Homo sapiens: one gene and its partners. The gene in region 1 interacts genetically with each later gene. Each region holds a gene or a part of one and is shown on either strand. Other genes may lie near its edges.

Region 1 (4,772 bases):
CTGAGTCCGTCAGCCCCCGACAGGGAGCCGGGAAAGCCTTTCCTGGGGTGAGCGGCCAGCTTGGCATCGGCAGAGGGCTCCTCCAGGGCGGGCCGGAACGTGAACAGGGAGTTCTGGCTGAGGGCGGAGCTGGCCTGCAGCGGGCTGTCCGCCGACTTGGCCAGGCCGATGTCGGAGATGGGCGAGAAGGTGGACTTCCACTTGCTGCTATTGACTGGCTCGCCGGCGGGCGCGGGCTTCCTTCCCGCCAAGCCACCACCTGGCAAAGAGGAAAGGCAGAAGCCGTGAGCCCAGAGCACCTGCCCGGGCTACCCATGAGGCTAACCGGGGCTGCTGCCACGGCCCGGGCAACTCTGCAGGCAGGGCTGGTCACAGACACTCAAGATGCCAAGCGGGACAGGATGGGAGAGGACAGGAGGGAAGGGGACGGGAGGGGACAAGATGGGATGGGACAGGAGGACTACAGCACAGGATGAGATGGCAGGGGACGGGACTGGATGGGACAGGAGGGCGGAAGACAGGACAGAGGCAGCTGAAGCGGGTCTCAGAGGCCATGCGGGATGAGCTCTGGGGAAAATGCTGAGGTCAGCAGCCTGCGGGAGGGAAGGTGGGGCTGCCCCAGAGCAGGTCAGGGTCCTCACTGAGGACGCAGGCACCACTCGGGGGGAAGGCCAGGGTGCAAAGCAAACAGGGGACCCAAGGTGACGATCCCCGCAGGTCAGCCACCCACTGTGAGAGCATGGCGTGTGCGCGGAGGCCCTGGGCTGCAGTGAGGGCCTCCCAGAGGCAGTTCTGGAAGCCCAGCGCCCCCAGTGTCGGCGCCCACGCAGGACACGACGCAGCAGGCCAGCACCACGCAGGACACGACGCAGCGGGCCAGCACCATGCGGGACACGATGCAGCGGGCCAGCAGGTGGGTCAGCAGCACTGACTGGGCACCACGGCCACACGGACAGGCCTGGCCACGCCGCAAAACACTTGTTACTCACCATTTTCCAAGGTTTTCGGGGGAGATTTGCTTTCTAAGGAGATTGTTGCAATTTTTCTCTCAATTCTGTTAAGAAAAAAAGGTCATTAATGCTTGAAACCCAGCTGCATACTAAGAATGACACAAATGCTGACAGCCAACAGCCCAGGGAGCTCCGGAGGTGGTGAACGAGAAGCACTCGGCCCAGACAGGGGACCCGTGCAGCCACCCTGGGCCAGGCCTGGACTGGGTGGCTGGGCCCTGGGATCCACCCCTGTTGTGCCACAAGGGTACTGTCCTGGCAGGGACTCCAGGGCCTCTGCTGGGACAAGCAGCCAAGAGATCAGGCACAGCAGCTGAATGGGAGAAGCAATTTCCCAGCACACAGAAGTGTGAGAATCCCAGACAGAGCTCTCTTCCTACCTCCCTCTCCCGGCCCCTCTCAGACCTCGGTGCCTCAGGTGGCAAACAATGCCACAGCATTGCAGGCCAGCACGTGAAGACATGCCCAACCACACACTGCATGGGGTCGCTTTGATCCAATGTCCCAAGAACACACCAGGGACACACAAATTCCTAAAGATCCTGGAAACCACTAAGCTGAGCAATCCCAATGCAAAACAGAGCATCCAGGTGCTACAATGTTTCTCGTGTAACACGTGCACGCACACGTGGGCAAGGAGCAGAACGAACTAACACAGAACACCACCAAAAGCACACTTAGGGCCGGCTGTGATGGCGCACGCTGGGAGGCACTGGGAGGCAGAAGGCTTGAGGCCAGGAGTTTGAGACCAGCCTGGGCAACATGGCAAAACCCGATCTCTATAAAACAAAAAAACGAACGAGGCACGGTGGTAGCGTGTGCCTGTAGACACAACTACTCAGGAGGCTGAGGCAGGAGAATCACTTGAACCCAGGAGGCGGAGGGTCAGTGAGCCGAGATCGCGCCACCGCACTCCAGCCTGGGCCACAGACCAAAACTCTGTGTCTCAGGAAAAAAAAAAAAAAAAAAGCAAAAAACCCTACCATGTTATATCACTTCACGACGACTCGGATGGCTAGAATCAAAACAAGAAATTCAGTGTGTTGAGGATGTGGGGACTGAGGACCTCAGACCCTCGTGCACCCATGGTGGCAGGGTGGAATGGTGTGGCTGCTGGAGAGCCCAGGGGGCCGGGCCACCCAGCACCTCCGCCCAGGCACCAGGAAACGGGAAACTTGCTCCCAAACACAAACACGCACACCCATGGCCACAGCAGTGCTGCTCACAACCGCCCAGGGTAAGCAAGCCTAGCACGGAGGGCGGATGGATGGTGGAGCACCACCCAGCCACGACAGGGACCGAGGATGCACCTTGAGGACGTCACGCTCAGTGAGAGATGCCAGACACAAAAGGCCACATCCTGTGTGACTCCGCTCCTAGGAGGTCCCTAGAGCCCTCAGATTCAGAGACAGAAAGTAGGATGGGGGCGGGGGGTGCCAGGGGCTCTTGGGAGGAGAAGGGGAGTGAGTGTTTCAAGGGGATGATGAGATTTTCTCAGGACATGATGGAAGGTTCTGGATTTAGGCAGTGGTAATGTGGATATACCAAAGACCTCTGAATTGCACACTTTAAATGGAGAATACGATATGTGAATTTTATCTAATAAAGCTACTGTAATACACTCGGCAAGACGTGTGGATGAGACCTCCAACGCCTCACTGCTGAAGCTTCTCTCCTGCTGCGCTCAGCTCCTCCTCAGCTTGCCTCTTCTAACCGATGGCCCTGCTCGTGTCCCACCCCGAATGGCCCGGGAGGCCGGCCCTGCCCGGAACGGGGCCCAGGACCTGTGGGGAGGCCCCTCACAAAACAGACGCCTTCCTCCCATCCAGGGCACCCCCTAAGAGCCTGCCGGTCCTCCCCACCCACCCACCCACACACACACAGTGAGCAGGCACCTCCTGCCCCTGCTGCCAGGCCCCGCCCCCCTCCGGGCCCCTGGACTCGCCGAGCACTGCTGGGCTCGTCCTCAGAGCCTGGCTCCTCGTCTGAGGTGAGTGGGGAGTAGTGTGCCCCATTGGTCTGGCTCAGAGGCCGCTCCTTCTTGAGCACGGGGGGCTGGTCGTGGTCCTGGTAGGGCACAGGGGAGCTCTTCAGGGAGGTCTCCGGGGACGAGATGGCTGTAATCTCCAGGGGCTGGTTGATGTTACTGACCTGAGGGCAGACAGACACAATGGATGCACATACCACAGACCCGGGACCCCAAGGCAGGAGAGCCCCCCCGCCCCAGGAGGCTCCTGTCTGCACCCCAGGGTCTCCTGAGGAAACTGATGCCCTGCCCAGCGGCCAGTACAGCCCCTGTCCTGGTTCTTCCTGGTCCTCACACACCACCCCGCAATCCCAGAGCCCCCCATGCCCCCTCCTGATGTGCCCACCACCACTAAGGCCCCACAGCCGAGAATGAAGAAGCTTGCAGGCAGCGCATCGCACTCCGAACCCCAGAGACAGCTGTCGGCCGCCTCTTCCCAGGCTGCCAGGCCGCACGTGGTGGAGGATGGCCGGGCTCAGTCATGGCCCCCTGCCTCCACCTGTTTTTTTTTGTGTTTTTTTTTGTCCCCCCGAGAGGGAGTCTCGCTCTGTGGCCCAGGCAGTGGCCGATCTCAGTTCACTGCAAGCCCCGCCTCCCGGGTTCACATCATTCTCCTGCCTCAGCCTCCCAGGCACCCGCCACCACGCCCGGCTAATCTTTTGTATTTTTGGTAGAGACGGGGTTTCACCGTGTTAGCCAGGATGGTCTTGATGTCCTGATCTTGTGATCCACCCGCCTCGGCCTCCCAAAATGCTGGGATTACAGGCGTGAGCCACCGCGCCCGGTCTCCCTCTGGTCTTTCTTTCACAGGCCGCGCTCCCCAGCCCTGCCGGTCCCCATCCTTACCATGGAGTTGAGGTTGAGGGGAGACCCCGAAGGCTGTGTGAAAAGGCCAGCGACGGACGGCAGGGCTCGGCGCTTGGGGGACACGCCTGCGCTCAAGCTGGGCGTCCCCGCAGATGCTCGCTTCCGCCGGCCGCGCCTGCGACTGTCCTGCCCGTGGCTCGGCACACAGTCCCCACGGGCGCTGGCGGTCAGGGGGCTGTGCTTGCTGGAGGGCGACTGCTTGGCACTGCCCGCACCAGTGGTGATGGTGAACACAATCCTCCTCTTGGCTTCACTCTCAGGATCTGAGAAGCCGGAATCGGAGGGCAGGTCTCCCTTGCTGGCCTCGGGCAACGGGCCCTGGGCGGCCCCACCAAGCCGGGGACTGGAGGAGAGCTGGTGGGCGGGAGAGGCAGGAAGCGAGTTCCGGGGCTGTGCCAGCAGCAGGGGGTGCTGTGGCGTGGAGCTGCGGGACCCCACGGTGGCAAAAAGGCTCCCAGAGCTGGAGGACTCATCCAAGGTGGCCGGCTCGGCTCCAGGTGTGAGAGAGGCCGGGCTGCCCGCCAAGGCCCCGCTGATGGCCACCGAGCCAGCGTAGGAGAAGCCTGCCGGGAAGGACATGGGGGTCTCAGGGGACACAGGATGGCCAAAGAGAAAGCCTTGCTGTGGGAGCACCACCCCCTAGGAGCTCTGTGGGCTCCAGGAGAGGCGGGGAAGTGGGGAAGGGGTTGGGAGTCTGAAAACGGCCCCTCTGGGGTGGAACCAGAAGGCTCTGTGGGCAAGCTCAAGGCTCAGGGCTGACCCTGTGCCTCCTCCCGCCCATCTGGGCTGCCTGTGCCCTGCAGGTCCCGGCTGAGACGCTGCCTCCCAAGAAGCCTCCTGGTGCGGGCTCCCCGCTGAGCTAGGCTTCC
Region 2 (4,772 bases), on another chromosome or scaffold:
GTCTCTCCCTGCTGCCTCCCCGCCAAGGCCTGCATAAGCCTGCAGGCGTCGATTAAACAGTGTAGCTAAGGGGAAGAGAGGAAGGGTGCTGCGACCCCACTTCCGAAACTGCCCGCGCTCAGTTCTTCCCCTGTCCTTACTCACTAACCCTTTACCACAATCCAATGGGGTGGACATTATTTCAACTCCTCCCATTTTCAAGACGAGGAAACTGAGGCCCGGAGGAGTGAAGTCACTTGCCCAAAATCATACAGCATGTAAGTGACAGAGCTGGAACTTGACAACAGGCCTCTCTGATTCTAGTCTTTGATATTCACTTCTGTGCTACTATCGAATCTACCATGCTGGGATTGGTGTGAGATGGAAACATGGAGACGGAGGGACCCCCATACCAGCTGGGAAAGAAGATGGGGGAGGAAGACCCCAAGAGGGCATTTGGAGCTCAGCATCGGACACAACTGGGCCCCTGGCACCCCTGAGAGCTCAGCTGAGACTCCAGGACTCCTCCCGAGCAGCAAGATGTCATCAGCATCAGAGGGCTGAGTGGGCCTCTGCTCAGAGCCCAAGCTCTGTCAGGGGAGCCCCTCCCTGACCCGGAACCTGGAGCCCCAGCCAGCCCCGCAGCCATCCATCACCCACTGCCCAAGGACCCACTCCTGCTCCAGGCTCTGCTCTGGCCCTGCCAACCTCTCCAGCCCTGCTTCACAGGCCCATTGGAACTCCCGGAACACGATGCCTCTTCACATTTCGGGACCTTCGCCTCTGCTGTGCCCACTGCCTGGAATTCCCTGAACCTTCTCTACTTTCTAGAAAGGCACAGAACTGTTCTCCGACTTCCTTAGTTAGAGCTGTTTGCTCTCCCCCCAGGGTCCCCTCTGCCCCTTCCGTGGCTCTCAGAGCCCTGGGCACCTCGCACTGGCATTATCTAAGTGCATGTCTGACTTCTCCTCCAGGCTGGCAGCTTCCTGGGTCCAGATGATTTTAATGTCCCCAGTGTCCAGCCCAAGGGCTGCTCCACTCTCAGAGCCAGAGAGCCCCCTCTTCTGTCTGCTAAGATGTGTCCTGTCTGGAGGTGGGGAAATGAATGATCAGCTAGAAGAGACGCCGGAGTCACCCACACCCCTCCCACTTTTCTGTCTCCTCACCTCTGGACTTTGCAAAGAGACACCAGCCCAGGGTCCACTGGACCAGTGGAAAAGAACTTCCACATGGCTTACGAGAGGCGCTCTAAGGGCTGGGCTGGTACTTATCTGCAAGGCCCCTTTAGAGAAGCTGGTGACCACTGCTCATAATCCCGGGCTCAATTCAAAGACTTTGAGAAGGGGAAGCAGGAAGGTTTGGACCACGGAGAAGCCAGAAGCAGGAAAAAACACTCAGCAAAGCTGGGACAAAAGCCCTTCCCATCCTGCGTGAAAATCCCCGGGAGACTAGGAAGGCAGCCAGAGGAAGTGCCCTGCCCCTCAATCCAGGGTTCTGGAAGGCCGGGAATGCCCTGCTCCTCCTCCCCTCTGCACGGGGGGTGCATGGGAAGTCTGGAGGGAAGCTAGCAACCAACCCAAGATGCTTGGGGTCCTCATCCCCACCAGGGCCTCCAGCCATGAGCAGAAGGCAGGTGGGAGTATTCAAGACCCTGCCTTTTGCCTCATCCATTAGGTCGGACCAGAGAGGCGGGCAGTGTTGAGAAGGGGCTGGGGTGAGAAACCCACCCCATGACAGACACATGGTACATCCCCAGGCCTCAGCCATGACAGGCGCTCCACGGTGGAAGCCGTAGCCACCACCATCAATCCTCGACTCCCAGATGGCCCAGGCCCCAGTCCCGCGATGCCCCTAGGGCTCGGAGCACCCACCCCCACCTACCAGCCAGGGCAGGCAGTGCCCCCAGCCCATCCGGCCTCATGCCCCTGGAGGAAGCCCAGGCCCGAGTGGCGTCAGCATTGACAATGCTGCTCAAGGCTGCAGTGGCCCCAGCAGTGGGGGCAACGGGCCCTGCTGTTTACACCCAGCCCCAGAACAGCCAGGGGGTCAGCCTGGGAAAGCTAAACACCAATAGCCCTGGGTGAAAGAGTGCCTGAACCCAGGCCAGGGAGGGGCAGGCCTTGGTCAGCTGGAGGGGCCTCTAGGGAGGTCTCAGAGAGCCAGGGCACTGGAGGGGCAGTTCTGGGGCCTCAGGCTCTTCAAGCCACTAGGTGGGAAGACTGGGAAGTTCTTTCCTATGTCTAGCCTCAGTTTCTCCTGCTGCTTTCCTGATTACTGTAGCATCAGGTACCTCGACCCAGGGGGAAAGAAGGCCATGCCATAGAGGAAGGCTGCCTCGCCAGGGAAGATCAGTGGCAGACCCTGGAATCCCCCACCCACCTACCTATCTAGCTTCCTGAACACCCACACACATGCACATGACCATCCAGCATACGCAAGATTTGCAGAGGCAGGAGGATCTTTCACCTTAGCTGGGAAGGAGAATGGCCCACAAATGCCCCAAACTCTAAAACACTAAGAGCCCCCATCTGTGTGTGACACTGCCAATCCTTGCCAGCCTCCCTGAATGGGAGGACAGGATGGGCCGGACCCCCTTCCCAACACTAGGCTGAAGCCTGGGGAGGCAAGACAGTCTCCCAAGGACTCAGCTAGTCCTTTGAGGGAGCCCAGGGTCTCAGAGAATGAGGGAAATGAGTACTGAGAGAGCCCCAGAATAGGGAACCCCAGAGGCTGAAGGGGTTGCAGAGACACCAAGAAGCAGAGAGACAACATGCAAGGGAGAGACACAGTAGGAAGAGACAGAGGCAGAGATCAAAGCAGCAGTGGCTCCTTGAGCAGAGGCTCAAGGAGGAGAGAAGGAGAGGGAGGGAGCGGGGACCCAGGAGGCTGTGATAAGTGGAAATGCTCCTTAATGTCCCCAGGGTGGCCTCCGGGTCCCCAGGTACTGCCTGAAGCCAGTGGGAAGGATGGCCCTATCCAAAGGACAGTCGGGCTAAGGCTTGGGCAGCCGGGAGGACCATGATGCAGGGCCAGCCGGGCGGGAGGAGAGACTCACCTCCAGCTCCTTGAAGACCATGCACCTGCGTGCCCAGTCCACGATGGAGATGAAGGTCTGGTCGGCCATTCTGCACAGGAGGCCGAAGGCCGCCGGCTGGTCGGGGCGGCTTTTGGTGGGCTCCTGCAGGCAGCCCAAGATGCGGGCCCGCACCTGGTCCTCATCCGGCTCCAGCTGCAGCAGCTGCAGGATGAGCTCAGGCACGTTGGGCCCTCCAGAGAAGGGCTCTGGGTAGCCGTACGGCAGCCCAGGCTGTGGGGGGCTGGCATAAGGCTCCGGGTACTCAGACTTGATGGCACGGCCAGGAAAGGCAGGGTAGAGGTAGCCAGCCAGTGGCCCGTGGGCACCGGGCACGGCCATGGGCAGTGCTGGGGCCCCAAAGTCGCCCAGTGGCCCAGCAGGTGGACCGGCGGCCAGGCCCTTGGGCTCAGGCCCATGCAGGCTGGGAGGCAGCACGTAGTCCGGTGCGGGAGGGGGCGGCGGGGGCACCCCCATCGGGGGCCCTGTCTCCAGCTTGAAGCCATTGGCCCGAATCTGTGCCTTCTTCTGCTGTTTCAGGGCCCGGTCCCGCTTGTACATCGGCCCAAACTTGTTCCGGCCACCCCTCATACGGTCAGCGCGCACGGCTGTGGGCAGGGGCAGAGGGTCAGACTCACCCTCTCTAAGCCCCCTTCCATGCTGCCCCACCACAGATCCTTTCCAAACAAATCTGACCGCTCTCTCCCCTGCTCAACACCCTTTCATGGCTCCCACTGACCACAGGGGAAGTCAGTCTCCTTTGCCTGGCATTCAAGGCCCTGCTCAGCTTTTCAGGCAATCCCTGCTAAGACCCCTCTCCTTCCACTCCACCGAACTCACCTCCACTCCTCTGTTTGACACATCTCCTTCCTCCTCCACCCTGCCTTTCATTTTCCTTCTGACTCAAACTTTTTTTTTTCTCTTGTGCTTGCTGAACACCCAGCCTCAATGTCACTACTTCCAGGAAGCACTCCTGGATTCATGCAAACGGGCTCTACTGTCCTTGCCCCAGGTGCCCTGTCCTTGCCCACTCTTATCATGCTGAGTGGATCATGCCATGTGCTCCTGCGGGCTAAGTTCTGGGCTCAGGTGTCTAGCATAAGGCCTGGCAGGGAGATGGTGACCGGAAGGGGACCCTGGTCAGCCTTGTTCACCGCTGGCCCCAGGGTCCAGCTGTTTGTTGACTGACTGCCTGACTGTTGAGCTCCTGCTTCAAAATGACTCAAGTATCCTTCACTGGCTGCGAATGTGAAGCCAAGTTTAGAGCTGGCCAAGGCTCTATGCTGGGGGAGGGGACCTCTCTTGCCGACTAGAAGCTCCTCCGCCTGGCGAGGAATGTGTCATCAGCCAGACCCAACAGGTACATCTCTGCAGCTGGAGTGTGCCCCCCGCCCCTGCTCAGACAGGGCCCCACCCTGGGATCTGGGCGAGGGGAAAGAGCAGGAGAGAGGGGGTGGTGGTGCTCAGCAGGGATGATGGCTGGGGGGCTGCCTGGCCAATCTTCCTGCCCCCTGGGGTGGGCAGCGCTGTGCTGCTCGCAGGCTGCACGGGAGTTTCTACTGCCCACAACAGCCAGCTATCTGGCCCCTTGGGACCTGGCACTAGGGGCATGGGCTCTGGGGACAGGACAGGATGTCCCCTCTCCCATCCAGGAGTCCTTTCTCCAGGTGGCAGGGCATGTGGTCCACCACTCTCAGAGCCACCTGGGGCTTTCTACACT
Region 3 (4,772 bases), on another chromosome or scaffold:
AGGGAGGGACTGTTTATCCTGGGACATGGGTGTCCCATGAAATAATTACAGAGAAGTCTCAGCAGCTGTTTGTAGGCAAGTTTTTAGCCTCGAAGACTCTATGGAAAGGACACGAGGCTGGGGGCTCCTGAGCAAATATCCCAGTCCCACTGACCAGGAGGCCAGTCTCTAGGGAAGCGAGTCAGGCTCCTTGGAAGGGACACTATGTTCCTATCCCTGCCTGACTCGGGGGAACAAAGGCACGTGTGTATGTGTGTGTGGCCAGGGAGGAGGGAGGGGAATGTTTCCCTTTCAAGAGAGGAACAAAGGATCTGAGGCATAGTTGAGTGCGTTCCAATCCCCTCCCAGGCCAGCTCCCATTCCTCAGATGATTGTCCAACAAGGTTTTCAACCTTCTAGCTTCCTCCTCAAAGGTGACTGGGGGAGGGGAAGGCAGGCTCTGTTTCACTCCACCCTTTATCATCAATTTCCAAGAGGCAGGATTTATATGTGCCAAACCTCAAGTTATCTCTTAAGAATCCCATCCTATGCAGGGGTGGGGTGGAATCTCCTAGGGGAACTCAGGGTTAATGGATGACACAGGGCACCGCAAGCAACAGGTTTAATGCATCTCCAGGGGAAGTCCAGGACTGAAACTGCTAATGCGTGATGGAGCCAAGGAGAGAACCCAGGAATTCTAACTGACCTCCCTCACAGCCTAGCCTAGGGTAGGGGGTAATGGCCTGGCAGAACCAAGTAGAAAGGCATTTTCTAAATCTTGAAGGGATGATCACAGCTGGAGGCAGAAGCCAGGTGAAGGAGGAAAGGGTAGGGAGCAAAGAAAGTAATGGACAAGAGGAAAGGCAGGGACACGTCCAAAAAAAGTAGTTTTTGGGGGGCGGACCTCTAGGGACATTGCTTTCCAGTTTCCACACTCTTGCCGGCAGGGCTGGGACAGGAAGCAGTCCATGGAAGTCATCGCAATGGCATTTCCTGAAGAGCTGGAGAAAAACCTCCAGTTCCGAGGGGAGCACTGGAGGCTGCCCAAAAAGCTGTGTGGCTCAGAGTTCACTGTAAGGCTCAAGCTTGGCCCGAGAGTCTCATCAGGGATGAAACCAAATAGCAGACGGTCCCAAAGGCAGTTTCTTTATACAAAACCACAATTTCAAAAATCAATATGTAAAAAAAGAGAAGCCAGATGATGTGAGTGAAGAGCCCTAGGATGATATGAAAGCCTTAAAAGAATGAATTAATTCACCCAATCTTCAGAAAAAGGTGGCATTACTATAGCCATTTACAAGTTAAAAGACTTGCCCAAGGTCACACAGCAAGCTAGTAGTCAAGTTCCAATTTGAAAGTCCAAAAACTGCCTCTTCCTCCTGATGTAACCTTGGGCAAGTCAATTCATCTTTCTCACCTGATTTCTCTCCTTTGAAACGGAGATGTCATCCTTCCTGCTCACCTCTCTGGGTGGTTATAAGGATCAAAAAGGCAAGGTGGATCTGAAAGTGCTTTGGAAGCTGTAAGGTGTTACATAAATATAGGGTAGCACTATTGTGGGCTCAGTGATAAACTAGCCTGCCTTGACACTGGGTTTAGTTAAGGTGCTGACATATCTGTCAACAGGAGAGAGCCATTTTAAAATATAACTAATGTGAAATATGCTGTAATGGTGGAATCCGCCACAAGGCCTAAGGATAGAGAGAACCAGCATTCCTTTATTGCCTACTTCAAACCCTCCATCTTGCATAAAGGGAAACTGGGGACTGGGGGTGAAGTGACTTGGCCAAGGTGAGACTGAGAGTAGAACTGGGATTCCAACTCCAAGACCAGTGCTTACACCACCATTGCACACAAACACTGTGGAGCTCCTACTACAACAGAAATGCTGCAAGGGCCTGCTCTGAGATGTGCTGATGGGTCACTATGGTATTTAGAAAAAGGAGAGTGGATGCTCAAGATTCCGTGAATGGGTCTCTGACATGCGTTCTGTGGAAAGATAATAAGAATAATGATACCAACATGGCTCCAGTCTTTATGCATCTCAGGTATACCTCACTGTGTCTTTACCATCGCCCCCTGTGAGGCAGGTATTATTATTTGTCCCAAGATTCAGAGAGGTAAAAGGAGCTTGCATAGGTAGACACGGATGAGTTGGGAACTGAACTCAGACAAATTTCATTTACTCAGACAGAAATACTGTTGGAGTGGAAGAGGACCATTCATCAGAATATCACATTTGGAGAGAACTATTCCCAAAGAACATCTATCTTACTTAACTTTGATTCTAGGACCTCCAAGTAGTTGAAAAATATGGTTTCCAGGATGGCTGGACCCATCAATATACCATGTGCAAGCCTGGTCTTATTCTCCAGTCCCCGTCTCACTACACCTCCACCTCTAGGTCCAAGCCACTATTCTTTTTCACCTGGCAATTGCACCAGCCTCTTCACTGGGCTCCCTGTTGCCACCCTTAAGAATACAGACCAGGCCTGGCACGGTGGCTCACGCCTGTAATTCCAGCACTTTAGGAGGCTGAGGCGGGCGGATCACGAGGTCAGGAGATCGAGACCATCCTGACTAACATGGTGAAACCCCGTCTACTAAAAATACCAAAAATTAGCCGGGTGTGGTGGCGGGCACCTGCAGTCCCAGCTACTTGGGAGGCTGAGGCAGGAGAATGGCGTGAACCCAGGAGGTGCAGCTTGCAGTGAGCAGAGATCGTGCCACTGCACTCCAGTCTGGGAGACAGAGAAAGACTCTGTCTCAAAAAAAAAAAAAAAAGGAATACAGACCATTCCACCAAAGCCAAATCCTCATCATGGTCTGTAATGCTGTATGCGATCTGGCCCCCACCTACTTCTCCATCCTCCTCCTCAACCATTCCCTCCCCACCTTCTACCCTTTTCCCCTTTGCTGTTTCTTCTCCAGCCACATTGACCTTCTTGCTCATCCTTGAAAATGTCAAGCATGCTCCCTCCTGAGTCCATTCCCTCTGCTTTAAACACCCTTTGCTGTAGGGTACCTACATCATCCACCTCCTTACCTCATTTAGCGCTTGGCTCAAATAAATTTAGGTAATACTTTTGTTGGGACTCAGGACATACCATCCCAAAATATGACTGTAGGAAAACAATATGCCACCCCAAAAATATACTTCTTTGGCATATTTTGAACTGGTTATTCTGAGAAACTGCAGACATAAGAGTAGCTCTGAAAAGCTGTCCTTTTGTAAAAGAAATTCACATCTAAAAAGGAAATCTACACTAGTAAAGGTATCTGTATTAGGAAGAGGGCTGCTCCAGACAAATTTTATTACCAGAGAGACTTTTTATTTTTATTTTTTGAGACAGGGTCTTGCTCTGTCACCCAGGTTGGAGCGCAGTGGCTTGATCTCGGCTCACTGCAACCTCCACCTCCCAGGCTCAAGTGATCCTCCCACCTCAGTACACCCCCTCAACAGTATCTGGGACCACAGACACACGCCACCACCAATTCTTTCCCTCACCCTGCCATAACTTGGGTTGCTGCCACTCAAGCCCCTAACAGAAGTCCCAAGCCCCATATTCTTTTCTGTAGCTCAGGATGCTATATAAGCTTCAATTATCTGACCCTTCTTTGAGCCTCATATTTTGTAGGATTCCTGTGTACAACTATGTAATTAATTATTTTTCCTCCAGTTAATCTGTCTATGTCAATTTAATTCTCAGCCCAGCCAAAGGACCTAGAAGGGTAGAGGAAAGCCATTTTTTTCTCCCTTACACCTTCTTTGATCACTCTTTTAAAACTGCAGCCCCACCCTCCCTTGCTAGACATGCCCTATGCCCCAACCTGCTTTATTTTCTTCATAGCATGTACAATCATCTGATATAAACATGTAATTATATATTTATTGCCTGTCACTCCTCATTGGAATGTGAGCTCCATGAGGACAGAAACTTAGTTTTGCTTACTTTTGTTTACTGCCATACTCCCAGTATGGTACACAGTAGGAGCTCAATAAACATTGTTTGACTCAACGAATGAATTATTAGGTAAATAGCCACTCCCATTATTGTTATTCTGGCTTGACAAGGGTCTGTTTCTTCAGAAATTTAGTGGGTTTCTCTTCAATTAGGTATCTGCTATGCCCAAGGCCTCTGCTCAGTGCTGAGGAAACAAGCATGGACAAGATGTGGCCTCCACCCTGAGGAGCTCCTAAATCTAGGACAGAGTAAATCTGTTAGAAATGTCTTCTCTGCACATAATTTAAGCTCTACCAACTGTTAACTTCTTTTCATTTATCCAAGTTTTGCCAGGTACCACACCAATAAAAAAAGACTCAGTCCCTCTTCCTTCAGATATCTGAAGCTGGTGATATTCTCCTGGGTCTTCTCTTCCCCAGGCTAAACAAAAAGACCCAGTGGGATTGCCTGACTCAGGTCTGCCAACTGGGAACAAGGAAGACAGACTGTCGGATAGAGGGGCAGAAGAGAAGAGGATCCAGGAGTAGAGTGACTCCTTCAAAGAAAAAAGAGGGAGTCCTTAGGGAGGACTCTGTGGAATTAGGTTGGAGGTTGGGTGGGGACAGGGCCTCTGCTTAATTAAGGCAGTAGGAGATTATACTTCCGTAGAAAAGCAGTACACTGGGAATTACCCCTATGTCTATCCACATTAAACTCAGGCAAAACCACAGTTGCTTCAAGAAAGCCCCATGATGGAAGGCTGAGGGCACTGGCAAAACCAGGGAGACTGGACACAGAGGAGGACGCTCAAGCCCACTGGCCTCAGGACAGATATCTGCTGGGGGAAGG
Region 4 (4,772 bases), 8.7 Mb from region 1:
CAGCTAGCACCTAGTTCTTTAACTTGCTTTTTTGGTTAACTTGCTTAATGATTTAGCTTGGAGATCTTTCCTCATCTGTTCATAAAGAGCCTCTTCATTCTTTCTCACGTCCGCATGGTCTTTGATGGGAGAGCCATCACTGGTTTAATTAGATGGTTTCCAGTGTGTCGCTACCACGGACAATCTAATTATACATGTAAGTTTGTTGATGTGTTCATGTATCTGGAGGTTAAACTCCTGTAGTGCCAAATCTTTTATGTGGATAAACACTTGTCATTTGGAGAGCTGTCACCTGATTGCCCTCGGTGGCGTTGTGCCGGTCCCCTCCTCACGGCGTGTCTGGGAAGAGCAAGCTCGTTTTAGCTGCACAGCCTAGAAGCCGTGGGCAGACCTGGGGGAAGGGGCAGGGCTCTCCCCTCCCATGCTGGCCCTGGCGTCAGATGCCACGTCACACCTGTGGTCTCTCCCAGGACACATTTGACATCCGGATCCTGATGGCCAAGTCTGTCAAGTACACGGTGAACTTCTTAGAAGCCAAAGAAGGAGATTTGCACAGGTACTGGCACCCACACTCCATCCTCCCAGGCCTGGCTCAGGCCGAAGGTCAGGGCCACCCCTGGCTCCCGCCGGCATCCTGCCGTCCCAGGGCAGATGGTGGGCGGGGGCCCCAGGCCTCTGCACCTGGCACCCCCTCTTCTCTCTCGGCAGCGCCTGTCTGGCTTCCCCAGCAGCCACTGCCCTTTGCCTTCCAGGATAGAAATCCCATTCAAATTCCACATGCTGCATTCAGGGCTGGTCCACGGCCTGGCTTTCTGGTTTGACGTTGCTTTCATCGGCTCCATGTGAGTGCCGCAGAGCAGCCCATGCTGCCTCCTCCCCACTCCCAGGGCTTCCTGCAGCTGCAACCTGGCTGGGGGGGTGGAACATGGCTCCAGGTTCCACCATCCCTTCCAATGGGAGTGAGAGCCTGTCTCGGAGCAAGAGACTGTTGTGGGTGGGGTGTGTGTGTGTGTGTGTGTATGTGTGTGTGTGTCCTGTGTTCCCAGTGTCTGTCCCTCATGGGTCTGTGTCTGTCTCTTGGCACATGTCAGGGTGAGTAGGGATCTCGTGGTTGCGGGCCCCTCGTGTGTACATGTATGCCTGCTCATGTTTGTGTCTGGGACTGCCTGGGGGCCAGCCTGTCTCTGCTCCAGGGTCCCAGGGGTCCCTGGCAGAGGGGGCAGGTGCTTGGGGAGGACTCAAGGCATACAAGGTGGTGGCTCCAGTGGTGGCGCCGGCCCAGTCAAGTATGTGCCTGTCCCTGCTCCACAGAATGACCGTGTGGCTGTCCACAGCCCCGACAGAGCCCCTGACCCACTGGTACCAGGTGCGGTGCCTGTTCCAGTCACCACTGTTCGCCAAGGCAGGGGACACGCTCTCAGGGACATGTCTGCTTATTGCCAACAAAAGGTGCGACTGCTCCCTGGGGCTGGTGGTGGTGGGCAGGGGTCCATCTGCCCAGCAGCTCATGCCACGGCCTGCACCCTGTCCGCAGACAGAGCTACGACATCAGTATTGTGGCCCAGGTGGACCAGACCGGCTCCAAGTCCAGTAACCTCCTGGATCTGAAAAACCCCTTCTTTAGGTAGGAGGGGCCCCTTGCCTGCACAGGGGGGCGCCCCGGCCCTGCAACCCCCTTGCCCCTGCCCATGGCTCTGTCTCTGCCATAGATACACGGGCACAACGCCCTCACCCCCACCCGGCTCCCACTACACATCTCCCTCGGAAAACATGTGGAACACGGGCAGCACCTACAACCTCAGCAGCGGGATGGCCGTGGCAGGTGAGCAGGGCCCACCCCAATGCCCAGCCAACCCGGGAGGCCGCCCTCGCCGCAGGCCTGGCCCCTCTGCCTCCAGCCCTGACGTCTCCCTCTCTGGACACAGGGATGCCGACCGCCTATGACTTGAGCAGTGTTATTGCCAGTGGCTCCAGCGTGGGCCACAACAACCTGATTCCTTTAGGTGAGTGTCCCCCAGGGCCAGGGGCAGCAGGGAGCCATGCCCAGGACTGCCCAGGGGCCGGGAAGGGCCTGTGGTGACCAGGGTCGGCCTCTGCTTGGTCCTTTCACCTTTTCCTCTTCCTGGGGGCTCTCGGCCGAGGCTCTCCGTCCTCTCTGCCTCGCTCTGCAGCCTGCTGCTGTGCATGGGCTGGGTGGCTGGGGGCGGTGACGCCGTCTCCCTTCCTTCTTTCCTCCCTCTCGCTGCGCAGCCAACACGGGGATTGTCAATCACACCCACTCCCGGATGGGCTCCATAATGAGCACGGGGATTGTCCAAGGTAACGAGGGTGGCGGGGGCAGGGCCCGTGGGGGCCGAGCTAGCGTGTGAGTCGCCATCCTCTGTCCGGCCGCCCGCCTGCCCTCTTGCCTGCCCTTTCTCTCTCTCTGTGACTCTGCCTGGGGGCTGGGCGGGCCAGGGCAGCCCCTCACTGCCATTGCCTGCTCCACAGGGTCCTCCGGCGCCCAGGGCAGTGGTGGTGGCAGCACGAGTGCCCACTATGCAGTCAACAGCCAGTTCACCATGGGCGGCCCCGCCATCTCCATGGCGTCGCCCATGTCCATCCCGACCAACACCATGCACTACGGGAGCTAGGGGCCCGCCCCGCGGACTGACAGCACCAGGAAACCAAATGATGTCCCTGCCCGCCGCCCCCGCCGGGCGGCTTTCCCCCTTGTACTGGAGAAGCTCGAACACCCGGTCACAGCTCTCTTTGCTATGGGAACTGGGACACTTTTTTACACGATGTTGCCGCCGTCCCCACCCTAACCCCCACCTCCCGGCCCTGAGCGTGTGTCGCTGCCATATTTTACACAAAATCATGTTGTGGGAGCCCTCGTCCCCCCTCCTGCCCGCTCTACCCTGACCTGGGCTTGTCATCTGCTGGAACAGGCGCCATGGGGCCTGCCAGCCCTGCCTGCCAGGTCCCTTAGCACCTGTCCCCCTGCCTGTCTCCAGTGGGAAGGTAGCCTGGCCAGGCGGGGCCTCCCCTTCGACGACCAGGCCTCGGTCACAACGGACGTGACATGCTGCTTTTTTTAATTTTATTTTTTTATGAAAAGAACCAGTGTCAATCCGCAGACCCTCTGTGAAGCCAGGCCGGCCGGGCCGAGCCAGCAGCCCCTCTCCCTAGACTCAGAGGCGCCGCGGGGAGGGGTGGCCCCGCCGAGGCTTCAGGGGCCCCCTCCCCACCAAAGGGTTCACCTCACACTTGAATGTACAACCCACCCCACTGTCGGGAAGGCCTCCGTCCTCGGCCCCTGCCTCTTGCTGCTGTCCTGTCCCCGAGCCCCTGCAGGTCCCCCCCCGCCCCCCCACTCAAGAGTTAGAGCAGGTGGCTGCAGGCCTTGGGCCCGGAGGGAAGGCCACTGCCGGCCACTTGGGGCAGACACAGACACCTCAAGGATCTGTCACGGAAGGCGTCCTTTTTCCTTGTAGCTAACGTTAGGCCTGAGTAGCTCCCCTCCATCCTTGTAGACGCTCCAGTCCCTACTACTGTGACGGCATTTCCATCCCTCCCCTGCCCGGGAAGGGACCTTGCAGGGACCTCTCCCTCCAAAAAAAGAAAAAAAGAAAAAGAAAGAAAAAATAAATGAGGAAACGTGTTGCAGCACAGGCAGTTTTCTTCTCCTTCTGCTCCCCTGTTTCTCATACCCCCAAACTCAGATGCTGGAGCTCAGGCCCGCCGTGTGTGCACCCAGGCAGGAGCGGGCGCTGTCCAGGCTGGGCCGCCCCCTTGGCTCTCCCTCCTGTTCCAGGGGAGCCATAGGAGGGAAAGCAGGTGGCCCGGGGGGGATATGGGGGCCCCAGCCCTGTCCCAAAGCTCCCTGCTCGGCTGCCCCTCGCCCGCCTTTATATAAATTCTCTGAATCACCTTTGCATAGAAAATAAAAGTGTTTGCTTTGTAAGAAAAGTCTGGAAAGTAGCAGAATCATCTCAAGGTGTCAAAGGAGCCTTCAGTCATCGTCTGGGGGGCAGGACAGGCAGAGGGGTTGGTCCACTTAGGTGTTGCCTGAAAGAAAGAATTGTCTGGGAGTGGCCCCAGAACCTCTCGCCTTGACTGGGAGTGGGAGGGCAGCCCCCTTAGCCCAGCTGGGAATAGTCCTTACCTGTGGGACCCGGGCCTTCCTAGGAGGGGGCCAGGGACTGCGGCAAGGTAGGGGACAGCGCGATGTTTGAGGGCAGAGATGTGATTTGGGGTGGAGGAGCCACGTTCTCCGGAGGCAGCGACTGGAAGAAGTACAACTGCACAAGACCCCTGGGGTCAGAGGCAGGGCCAGCCCATGCCCCCCTAGCCCCTCGGCCCCACCTGTGGCCACCCCAGACCCGTACCTTACAGCCCATGGCCAGGAGGGCGTGGAGCAGCACGACCACGGACAGCAGCACTGTGGCCACCAGCCTGGTGTCCTCACGGACCACGGGCCAGAGGGTGAATACCAGCCCGGCGGCTGACAGGCCCAGGGCCAGCGCCCCAAAGAGCCACTGCAGCCAAGGCACAGGGATGAGCCACAGGACCTGGGAGCAACACGGCGGCAGGTGACCATGCCAGTCCCCCCAGCCACCACCCACTCTGCACCAGGCCACCCTCACCACCATGGGAATGAGGCGGCAGGTGACCATGCCAGTGTCCCCACACAGCCACCACCCACTCCGCGCCAGGCCACACTCACCACCATGGGGATGAAGACAAAGAGGGAGTAGCCGTAGATGCACACAGTCTCCAGGAAGGTGTAG

Evidence for each region. A genetic interaction does not mean that the proteins touch.
Region 2: changes in DOT1L (region 1) and NR5A1 together harm fitness less than expected from each alone (positive genetic interaction), as found in Homo sapiens cells (one large-scale study listed by BioGRID).
Region 3: changes in DOT1L (region 1) and BCL2L1 together harm fitness more than expected from each alone (negative genetic interaction), as found in Homo sapiens cells (one large-scale study listed by BioGRID).
Region 4: changes in DOT1L (region 1) and CARM1 together harm fitness more than expected from each alone (negative genetic interaction), as found in Homo sapiens cells (one large-scale study listed by BioGRID).

What each region holds. Positions count from the first base shown.
Region 1 is NC_000019.10:2,221,670-2,226,441, reverse strand, and holds part of DOT1L (histone-lysine N-methyltransferase, H3 lysine-79 specific), read right to left. Parts: intron 4,467-4,772; coding exon 3,883-4,466; intron 3,162-3,882; coding exon 2,956-3,161; intron 1,055-2,955; coding exon 990-1,054; intron 260-989; coding exon 1-259. UniProt on the Homo sapiens protein: Histone methyltransferase. Methylates 'Lys-79' of histone H3. Nucleosomes are preferred as substrate compared to free histones. Binds to DNA.
Region 2 is NC_000009.12:124,497,056-124,501,827, forward strand, and holds part of NR5A1 (steroidogenic factor 1), read right to left. Parts: intron 3,661-4,772; coding exon 3,035-3,660; intron 1-3,034. UniProt on the Homo sapiens protein: Transcriptional activator. Essential for sexual differentiation and formation of the primary steroidogenic tissues. Binds to the Ad4 site found in the promoter region of steroidogenic P450 genes such as CYP11A, CYP11B and CYP21B.
Region 3 is NC_000020.11:31,712,525-31,717,296, forward strand, and holds part of BCL2L1 (bcl-2-like protein 1), read right to left. Parts: intron 4,321-4,772; exon of another isoform or gene 4,097-4,320; intron 1-4,096. UniProt on the Homo sapiens protein: Potent inhibitor of cell death. Inhibits activation of caspases. Appears to regulate cell death by blocking the voltage-dependent anion channel (VDAC) by binding to it and preventing the release of the caspase activator, CYC1, from the mitochondrial membrane.
Region 4 is NC_000019.10:10,919,125-10,923,896, forward strand, and holds the end of CARM1 (histone-arginine methyltransferase CARM1), read left to right. Parts: intron 1-470; coding exon 471-556; intron 557-752; coding exon 753-842; intron 843-1,311; coding exon 1,312-1,449; intron 1,450-1,534; coding exon 1,535-1,624; intron 1,625-1,709; coding exon 1,710-1,822; intron 1,823-1,925; coding exon 1,926-2,003; intron 2,004-2,250; coding exon 2,251-2,319; intron 2,320-2,490; coding exon 2,491-2,633; 3' UTR 2,634-3,951; downstream 3,952-4,772. Other genes in the region: protein YIPF2, read right to left, coding at 4,167-4,283, 4,371-4,553, 4,709-4,772. UniProt on the Homo sapiens protein: Methylates (mono- and asymmetric dimethylation) the guanidino nitrogens of arginyl residues in several proteins involved in DNA packaging, transcription regulation, pre-mRNA splicing, and mRNA stability.